Regions from separate parts of the Homo sapiens genome. Here region 2 is linked to region 1. The links come from fine-mapping of genetic effects on gene expression. Tissue or cell type: whole blood. Region 1 holds a variant in brackets; the other region holds the start of a gene. All regions are shown on one strand. Distances are from middle to middle.

The links. PIP is the estimated chance that this variant, and not a neighbour inherited with it, causes the effect.
Region 2: NCF2 starts here. The variant in region 1 is the best candidate, but not a certain one, in a credible set for the expression of NCF2 in whole blood (INTERVAL, PIP 0.78).

Annotation. Positions count from the first base shown.
Region 1 is chr1:183,566,149-183,571,522 of GRCh38, forward strand. NCF2 (neutrophil cytosolic factor 2) reads right to left here. Exons shown (of 15, transcript NM_000433.4): 6 at 4,632-4,691; 7 at 2,994-3,037; 8 at 1,056-1,197; 9 at 772-840. Among named protein-coding and RNA genes, the nearest start is that of NCF2, 22 kb to the right of the region's middle. RefSeq lists an enhancer at 1,595-1,654 and a silencer at 4,983-5,148. The variant G/C (reference allele first, on the strand shown) is at 2,576.
Region 2 is chr1:183,587,990-183,593,363 of GRCh38, forward strand. It overlaps NCF2 (neutrophil cytosolic factor 2), which reads right to left and starts at 2,470. Exons shown (of 15, transcript NM_000433.4): 1 at 2,167-2,470. The coding sequence starts at 2,340. It also overlaps the pseudogene C18orf32P1. RefSeq lists enhancers at 2,490-2,749, 2,860-3,199.

The sequences.
Region 1 (5,374 bases):
TTTGAAGCTTTTCAAAGCATTTGGATATGGTGACTGACCAGGGAGGGCTGAGCTCATATACAACTGGTTGCACAGTCTAGAGACAGACAGTCTCCACTGCCATTGAGTCACTTACAGGGATGCTCAGATCTGACAAAGACAGCTCTCTAGGCCTGGCAGAAGGACAGACTTTTGAAGTGTGAGGGAGGGAGTAGCAGCAGTTTAGAAGCAGTGGCTGGCAAGGCCCACTCTGATTCAAAGCTCTAAGGCAGATCTCATTTTATTATTTTTATTTGTATAGAGGTGGCATCTCTCTATTTTGCCCAGGCTGGTCTCGAACTCCTGAGTTCAAGTGATCCTCTCACCTCAGCCTTCCAAAGTGCTAGGATTACAGCCATGAGCAACTGCAGCTGGCCTCATTTTCTTTCTAATGGCATTGTACCAGCCAACACATTGACTACTCTTCCACGTGAAGCAGACACACTTGGGAAGACCTAACCCACTCATATACTGTAGGCTTTGCTTCCCAAGTGACTTCTGACCAGGAAGAGTCACAGAGGTGGGTGGGCCCAATGGGACCTACAGATGCCTCCAACTTAGCACATCTGGGCTTTTTTCCCCTCATTCCCAGGTTCAGCTCTGGGTAGCTGGTGCCATCTCAAGGCGGGCTCAAGACTAGTGAATCTTTCTCCAGGGGTCCTGACAACACCTCTTTTACACTGCTTTTCTCCCCTCCAGGGAGAGATCCCTAAAGGGTGAGAGGAAATGGGTCAGGCCTTGGCATCACATTACCTGGGGCTGCTGCTGAGGGTGGATCCGCAGCTCAACTGGTTCAAGGTAGTTGCAGGGAACAAGCCCCTTCTGCAGTGCAGCACCACAGAATCAGAAAGGAAAAAATAAAGATGTGCTCATCAGTACCCACACCACAGAACAGCCCAGAGTCCTGGGGAAGGGATGACGAACAGACAAAAGAACTTGGCTGGTCTGCAAAGAAGGCAGCAGATACTGCTCCACAGAGACTGCATTTGCTGCCAGGATCCCATGCCCATCGCACCAGCCCCTGATCCTCTGCATACCTGCCCGTTGAACATGACCGTGGCCCAGTTATCATTGCCCTTCTTCAAGACAAAGACAATGTTCCCTGGCATGACCTGGAGCTCTTCTTTTGTCTCAGGCACAAACCCAAATAGCACACGGTGAGCCTCCCCTTCCAGAGCCCTGCAGAGGATAGACACAAGATCCAGCCCCCATCCCCTCACATGATGCCATGGCGCAAATACACTGAACTTGGAGCCAGGGACTTGGCTCCAGCCTGGCTCTAACTCCACATCTAACTGCAACTGCCGAGATGACACTGAGCCTGCCTGGGCTCCCAAGAGGTCTCAGCAAGAAACTGGTGTACACCTGCTCATAACCATATATGCAGAGGGGCAAGAATAAAGCAAAAACCCCACAACACTAGATAGTGAGGACTTACAATCCTTGCCCTCCCTTCTGCTCTGAGGAGGAAGGTCCCTGGCTGTGTCATCTTGGCCAGCACCCAAGGCTGGGCTGGGGTGGGGTGGATCAGGTGACTGTGGTCAGGGGAACAGCACAAAGCAGAAGTCAGGTGAGAGCCAGCTGGGCCAGAAAGATTGGTGGGAGAGGAGGAAGGAGAAACCACCTAGAACCAGTGTTGGGCCAGGATAGAGAGACCGTGAGCAGGGTAGGTGACAGGGAGCGTGAGGGATGCACATAGAGGGCTCTGAGGCTGCCCAGCTGCCGTGGTGCAGTGTCGGTTCCCTTAAGTCTGACTTCATGCTTTTAGGCTTTGAGGCTCTGATTGGCATCACTTTGGAACGTGTGACTGAGAGGCTGGTGTTCAGGTTTCAGGCTTCCCTCCCTTTACTCCCCACTCTGTTACTTTCCCCTCGGCCCATCCTTGTTTCCAGACATCGTGCCTACTCCTGTAGGGAATACAGGCCCTTCCAGCTGACAGGGAGCTTAGGAATGAGCTCATCCAGCCCCCTCATTTTTGTAGTTGCTTTGGTACTTTTGTCACTTTTTTTTTTTTGAGACGGAATCTTGGTCTGTTGCCCAGGCTGGAGTGCAGTGACATGATCTTGGTTCACTGCAACCTCCACCTCCTGAGTGCAAGTGAGCCTCCTGCCTCAGCCTCCCAAGTAGCTGGTATTACAGGCACATGTCAGTCACCACACTCAGCTAATTTTTTCATGTTTAGTAGACATGGGGTTTTGCCACGTTGGCCCGGCTGGTCTCGAACTCCTGATCTCAAGTGATCCGCCCACCTCAGTCTCCCAAAGTGCTGTGATTTCAGGCATGAGCCACACACCTGGCCAATCACTTTTTAAAACCTCCTTTTTGGGTGGGAGGACCAGGCTTGCTTCATCACTTTGAGAGAATTCTTAAGAAAGCTGTAGGTTATGTCACCCTTTGTTTTTCATCTTACAGAAGAAGGACTTCCTTTTCTTCAGTCCTTCCTCTTTACTTCTTCAGAAAGCATGTGCCGATAGGGAGTGGAAAACATCCACACAGGAAAAAGGACGTCATTCTAGATTCCTGACTCCAGAGAGCTCTGGCCTGCCCCCGTCAGAGG[G/C]GACTGCAGCCAGTGCGAAACCGATCTCCAACCTGAGGTCAGCATCCTGGTCCCCAGGGTAGCTATGTTCCACAGAACACCACTGCCCCTCAGCAACAACCCCTTGCCATGTGGGTGGCTGTGCACGTGGACAGAGGGCCAATGGGACACCACGTAGCTGCAGCCAAGCCCTGATGGCCAGCCCCACCACAGTCAAGACTCCCATCCCCATCATATCATTCCTTTCTAGCCTGACATTCTAGAAGACATTCTTCTAGGCATTCCTTTCTAGCCTGACATTCTAGAAGAAGCCTGACATTCCAGAAAATTCAACAAGATTTAGACCCTGACCCCACCTTCATCTTCTTCCCTCCCTTTCTTGCCATCAGCTCAGGCTTGGCGCTTGGATATTCTATTTATGGATTTGAATCTAACTTACCTGAAGATCTCTGGGGTTTTCGGTCTGGGTGGAGGCTCAGCTGCCTATTGAACATTCAGGAGAAGTGAAAACGGAAAAGGCAATGAGGGAAAGCAGGGGAGAGACAACAAACGGCTAATGGTAATTTGAGCATTCTTCCAGACCAGAAAATCAAATAACGCATTTCTGACTGATGAGAACACTGTCTAGGAAGAGGGCACAGTCACCCTGACTAAACACTGGGAAATAACACCTCCCACCAGCTCCCCAGGTACAGGTTTCACTAGCACAGCAATTCATTTTGAGCCAGAGCTAGTTTCTGGAGGTTAGCAGTCACACAGCAACATGGTGTCACAAGAATGCTTTGACCTTGAGCTCTGTCCTTTTCCCAGGACAGTTTCCAAAAGCTCTGTTCTGTAATTAATGTCTACTATGTCACATGACACTTCTGAGTATTTTTAAATTAATTTAAAAAAAATTTTTTTTGAGATGGAGTTTCACTCTGTCGCCCAGGCTGGAGTGCAGTGGCGCGATCTTGGCTCACTGCAACCTCTGCCTCCCTCATTGAGGTGATTCTCCTGCCTCAGCCTCCCATGTTGCTAGAATTACAGGCATGTGCCACCACACCCTGCTAATTTTTGTATTTTTAGTAGGGACAGGGGTTTCACCATGTTGGCCAGGCTGGTCTGGAACTCCTGGCCTCAAGTGATCTGCTCACCTCAGCCTCCCAAAATGGTGGGATTATAGGCGTGAGCCACTGTGCCTGGCCACTTCTGAGTATTTAAAATTGACACAGGATCCACTGACTGGGCAAGAATCTCCTCCCCTGTTCTACACTGAATACCATGGAATCCAGTTACCTGGGCTGCATTCCCCTCATGGCCTCTGGCTGAACTGAAGCTCAAGGGACTTCAGCAAGGCTTTCATCAGCTTTATTGTGAAGAAAGAGATCAAGGAATCTAGATCTGGAACATACCTGCCCCTGCTCAGAAAACCGCCCTCTGCTAGTGCTGACCAACACTCTTGCCCATCACAGGTTCATTGCCACAGAGTTCGTATTTTCCTTAATGTGTTTTCCCCTCTTTCCTTCACAAGGAAGCTCTGTGTGCATTTCTAGATCCACTATCATCCAGTTCATCTGAGCTCACCTCTCCAAGCCCAGCTTGGGCAGAAAAAGGGTTCACTCTCAGTGCGCTGCCTGTGTTCCCGAAGGAAACCCCTGCACATGAGCAGATGGGTAGAGCCAGGAGAGCCCAAACCTCAGGCCCAGGCCCCACAGGGTTCCCCACTTGCCCCTGTACTCAAGAAGAGGCTTTGTTAATAAGCCTTCCATAGCTTGTGTTTCAGCTTCCTGAGAGAATAGTTGAGGCTTCAGAGAGAGGATCAGCAGATCTCTTTAGAGATGTGAAGACCGGCATTTGTGGGGAAGCAGGAGAGTTAGCTTCAGAGGACTTGGGGTGAAGCCTGACACTGCCTTATTTCCTCACCAGCCATGGAAACCAGGACTGAGAGAGGGCAGGCAGATCCCTCAGCTGCACTGAGGGCCACTTGAAGGAGCCCTTACAATCAGGCAACTCAGCACACATAGTCTCTCGAATTGAATGCTTCACAGAAAGCTCTCGAGACCTAGGTCCATGGAGAAGGTCAGGACTGCCTTACCTGTGGTTGCAGAGGGGCAAACCCAGAGAAACTGTCTTGATCCACCACAGATGCCACGACCTAAAATCAAGGACAGGAGGGTGTGAGGCTCTGCCAGCACTGTTTCCATTCTTCTGGGTCTCCCTCTTTGCTCATGCCCTAGACCTGTTCTTACGTGAGCCTGGTTTCAGACGTGGACAGTAACTAAGGATTAGATTCCTGAGCCTCTGGATTAGGATTTCAGCAACTGAAGAAACGAGCATTCACCCCACCCCTGCTAACACAGGCTTGCTTTCTTCTCTCTTAAAAAAGAAATGTTTTTAATTGAGGTGCAATTTGTATAACATCAAATTATCTTTTTTTTTTTTTTTTTTTTTGAGACGGAGTCACGCTCTGTTACCCAGACTGGAGTGCAGTGGCGTGATCTCAGCTCACTGCAACCTCTGCCTTCCAGGTTCAAGTGATTCTCCTGCCTCAGCCTCCCGAGTAGCTGATATTACAGGCACCCGCCACTGTGCCCGGCTAATTTTTGTATTTTCAGTAGAGACAGGTTTTCACCATGTTGGCCAGGCTGGTCTCAAACTTCTGACCTCAGGTGATCTACCCATCCAGCCTCCCAAAGTGCTGGGATTATAGGCATGAGCCACCACGCCCAGCCCAAATTAATCATTTTAAAGTGAATGATTCAGTGGCATTTATCACATTCACAATGCTGTGCAACTACTGCCTCTCTCTAATTCCAAAATATTTTCATCACCTCAGAA
Region 2 (5,374 bases), 22 kb after region 1:
TTGAGCCAGTAGACACTATGTTACTAAATCAGTACTTTAAAATCTTTGGTCTTCTGTCTTTCATTCATATGAATTTAACTGCTGTTTGCTCTAATTTCTTTGAGTTCTCCTAGTTTGAGTAGAGTACAATTTTACTGTGAAACAATGCAGCGAGACTGTGCTATGAAGTGAAGGTAGAGTTTTTGGAGGTGATAATGATGTCAAACTTAAAGATACAATTCCTATCCAACACAACAGAGCACCTTGTCCAGGAGAGTAGTAATTACTATTTATTGCTCTGTGGAAGATAAAAAAGATAGGGAAATAGGAGAAGCTTCTTTGAAAAATGAAACATCATTAGACGGGCTTGGTGGTGCATGCCTGTAATCCCAGCTACTTGGGAGGCTGAGGCAGGAGAATCACTTGAACCCAGGAGGCAGAGGTTGCAGTGAGCCGAGATTGCACCACTGCACTCCAGCCTGGGTGACAGAGTGAGACTCCATCTCAAAAAAAAAAAAAAAGAAAGAAAAAATGATATCTAATGTAATAATGAAATTTTAACCCTTGTTGCATTTCTTGTATTCCTATGAATGTATTGAACATTCAGTTTAAATAAATAATAAAATTTATTGCAAATGAAAATAATTAAAATATTATATAAATTGTTATATTTGTTTACTATACAAACTTATACATGAATAGTATACAATTAAAATGATAATGAATAAGAATGCATATAAATGCTAGTAGGAAGGGCTCAAGCAGGAAAACAAAGAAAGGCAGAAGGAATGAGAAGGCTAGAAGCAGAGGAATGCCAGGAGAAACAGAGACATGTGGGCCTGAAGGCCTGGGAGCTGAGAAGTGAGTGGTGGCCCACACAACCTTGCCAAGGATCCCATATCCAGGCCAAGGCAGGAGGCTACAGTCCCTGCTGGCATAGCTGTGCCCAGACTAGCTGCCAATCTCTTCTCCTGGACAATGTGCACTTTGTGTCCATCAGCCCTCAGAATGTGTGGTGCTGTTCACTCAGCCCCTCAGCAGGCCCCTGAGAGGAGGTGGGGCCATGTCCTTCCTCCAGCCAGAGGTGGGGGGTCCTGCCATGCTCTGCCTTAGAGCCTGAGATTGACTTGTCAAGCTATGTGAGAACATTTCAGTCACTTCTCTGTCTTCCTGTCAGGAGGGTGTGGCTGAGGCTTGTTTACCTACTGTTGGAGTGTGGAAGGGACTGATTCTTTAAGGGACCTGGGGAGTCAACCACTGCCACACCTTGCAAAGACTGGCAGTAATCGGTAAAAATAATAACTAACTCTTATACAGTGGTGTGAAGTTCCACGAGACATTAATAGTTTGGCATCTCACTTAATTTTCATGATATTTAGAAACTCAGGAAGCTGAAAGCCAGATGTCTACATAGGCTACATAGCTTGCTTAAGACTAAAAGTCCAGAGAGAGACAGAGGCTAGGATTCGATCCTAGATCTTCTCCTTCCAAACTCCATACCCTTTCCACCTTACCACAACCAATCAAAAAAATAATTATCGAGAATGCTTAACTCCATACTATGGTATTTGAGTGAGAAAACATAACGAAAAAGATGCGAGACATCCCACACCATGCCCCCAGCAGACATCACTAGTCAATCACAGTACAATTTCCTCTTGCCAGCCTCAGCATCTTTAAAAGAGTCTCCTTTATAATTGATCAGAATTGTCACTTGGGATAAAAGCTATTTTTTGTAAGTGCCTCCCTTAAATCTCTTGAGCAGGCAAAGTCGACACACATGAAAGTCTTGGAAAGCCAAAAGAGGTGCCTTAGAATCAATAATCAGGTGTAAAGCGCTGGGATAGATAGAGATTCTGTGCCCAGAAGGAGTTCTGTGTAGAAGAAAGTACGACTAGGACAGCCTTCACAAAGGTGTTAAAGACACTTGTAGAATGATTTTAATTTAGAAGATGGAGAAAGAGGCAACCCTGGCTGCCCCTCACCTGCTCTCCACCTGGAGAGCTTTTAAAACTGGCTGCCTGGGGCCCCTCCCAGACCAGTTAAATCAGGCTGTCTAGGGGTGGAGCTTGGGCAACTTTTGTTCTTTTCAATCTCCCCAGAGGTTAGGTTTCCGAAATGCAATGGGGTTGAGAATCATAATAACAAATGCACAGAGGAGGCCCGGAAAGAGGCACCTCCACTCACCTTCTCTGCTTCAGTCATGTTCTTCAGGATAGTGTACATGCAGCCAATGTTGAAGCAAATCCGGGAGTGGGGGTCCTGGACGGCACTGAAGGCATCCAGGGCTCCCTTCCAGTCCTTCTTGTCCGCTGCCAGCACCCCTTCATTCCAGAGGCTGATGGCCTCCACCAGGGACATGATTAGGTAGAAACTAGGAGGCCAAGAGAGCTGCCAGGAGACAGAGAGAAGACAGGTTGGAGCGTCTCCCCTAGCAGGGCTGCCTTAGTGGCCCCCAAGGTGTTCACTTTCTGGGCCAGATGAGTAGAATGGGGCCCAGCCTCCCTTAAGATAACTTCTCAGTGTTGCAAATGCATCAGGAAATGTCCCCACCTTTTGGCAACTGACTCATAACCCTACCATGAGAGAGAAAAGGAAAGAAGCAGAGAGAGAGAGGGCGAGTAGGGGTGGAGTGTGGAGGAGAGAGGAAGTACATCAGCTGCTGCCTGAAGGATCAGTTCCCCAAAATGCTTCTGCTCTGTCACCCAGCTCCTCTTCTCTCTCCCACCCCTGTTCTGTGGCAGCTTCTGGCCAAAGTTCTGCTTCTAGAGCCAGGGTAACCTTGGCAGGTAGAGGCACCTCCCTGGTGATAATGACAGGAGGCAGCCAAATGCCTAGGCAGATAGGGGCAGGTCCCTGGTGAAACCCCACCTTCAAGCCAAAAACAGCCTGAAGGCTGAAAGACTAGGCTACTGGTCCCAAATGAAACCCGTGACCTAGAGTGAGAACTTCTGTTCCTGTTTGTCTGCTCTTTCCCAATTAATTATTTCTGACTAATGCCTTTTAACCAATTGAATGTTGCCTTTTCCAGTACTACCTATGTCCTGCCCCTCCCCTATTCTGAGCCCATAAAAGCCCCAGACTCACCCGCACTGGGGGGACTTTCCTGCCTTTGGGTAGGGGAACCACCCCTGCATCCCCTCTCCACTGAAAGCTGTTTTCATCACTCAATAAAACTCCCCACCCAGGCCGAGTGGGCAGGCCATCTCCTGCAGCAGGTAGTGTGGCCCACTGAGGCCTGGGCAGGGTGTCACCAGCCAGAGGTTCCTGGCTTACAAAGTGATGGAGAAAAAATCCTGTGTCACTGGGCCTTGATTTCCACACCCTTGTTAAATGGGAGTGTCAGATGAGAGGATAATTCTTTCCAGTCTTGAATGAATTCCTTGCTCACTTTTTTGTAATCCCATAGGCTGTATTAATATGTTAGTGTTTATCTTGAGCTGAAATTATCATTAACAAATTTTTGAGACAGGATAATCTTTGGAGATCCATCTGATCTGGGCCTGAAATAACTTTTTTTTTTTTTTTTTTGAGACGGAGTTTCACTCTTGTTGCCCAGGCTGGAATGCAGTGACACGATCTCAGCTCATTGCAACCTCTGCCTCCTGGGTTCAAGCAATTCTCCTGCCTCAGCCTCCTGAGTAGCTGGGATTACAGAAGCCTGCCACCACGCCCTGCTAATTTTTGTATTTTTAGTAGAGATGGGGTTTCACCATGTTGGCCAGGCTGATGGTCTCGAACTCCTGACCTCAGGTGATTCGGCCTCCTCGGCCTCCCCTCAAAGTGCTGGGATTACAGGAGTGAGCCACCGTGCCCAGCCGAAATAACTTTTATGAACATTCATGAAGTTCAGAGGGGACCAATTTCCTGCAAATGTCAAAATTGGGAGCCACATGACAGTGAATTATGACTTCTCCCATCTTCCAGTGAAAAATTGAAGAGATGAAAGTCCTGCACTGATGACTAATGGATTTACTAGTCTCTGAAAAAACAGATTTAAGAGTTCTTTCCTTGCTTTTCCAGAAAAGTAAAAATCAGTAAAACCTCCCAGAGGAATAACTGGGGGTAAAGGGTATAGCCAATTTGGCTTGCTAAAATCCAGGCTTCTTTTTAGGTAAAATGCATGTTTATGGGGGTCAAATACTTAGATGCAAACTCTTGTTTTGTAGCAACTGAAAGAATTCACTCATTATCACCAAGCTTCCCCTAAAAGCCTGAAAATAAAACTTAAAAATGTATACTCCACAGTGCTTGTAGGATTGAAGGTGTGAGAATTAAGAAGACATGTGTGTCTTTGTCCAGATTGTTTTCCTGTGTTTACAAGGCCTTCCCAGCTCTCTTCTTTGCCTGGCAAACTCCTACTCATCTTTCAAAGCCCAGTTTAAATGTCACCAACTGTGCTAAATCTAGCCCTGAACTCTGGGTAGTAGGAGAATTTTCCTCTCCTTTGTACCACCTTTACCCAAAAACTTGCATCATACTTACTGCAATTTATCTCTTTATCTGCTCAATTCATGGGCTCCTTGGAAGTTGGGACCATGCCTTTTCATTCTAGGATCTCTAGCACAGATACTCAATACATGATGAAGGGATACATTCTAAAAGAAATTAGAAATCATTGGTAAATGACCTGCAGGTAGCAGTGATGGCAGAAAGAGGTATTGCTATTCCATCTAGTGAATAAATAATCAGGACTTGAATAGCACATTAATTATTCCTGAGAAAACCAAATGGATTTGTAGCTAAATTAGACTTCATTTTTAAAAAATGTTTTTGCCCTCCTATTATCCCACCCTGACACTCAGAACTCTCCTTAATCTGACTGCCAAGACTTTTCTAGCCTTATCCCCAGAACTTTCCTTCACAATCCCATACAAACTCTGCTGCTTACTCTTCTCCCGCTATGCCTTCATTCCTGCATCTGTGCGACTCGTGCTAGTTCCTCTTTCTAGGCTGCCCTCTCCCATGTCTGCACCTTCAAACCCACCTTGCATAGCCTTCGAAGGCCTGCTAAAATAGCACTCTCCTTAACACACTGCCCTGAAATCAGTCCTGCCTGAAAGCGCTCAAACCCATGATCTCGCCTTCTGAACTCCTGCATCTCCTTCTCCGCACCTCCCATGTGGCCCTTAATCACTCTTCACCAATGTATGTGCATGCAAGTCTTAGCACCTCAAATAGTGTGCCTCAGGAGGAAGTCCTGGGCTAACCCATGTTTGTATCCCCCAGGGCACTAGCAAAGCCATTCATGCTCCATTTCATCCACTTTCCCTCCCCTTCTCCTGTCACCACTCAGGCCAAGCCACTATCAACTCCCAGGTGAACATGATAGTCTTTTAACATTTCTTTGCCTCTCCATCCAGATTGAGCTTTTAAAAACACAAGTCAGATCACT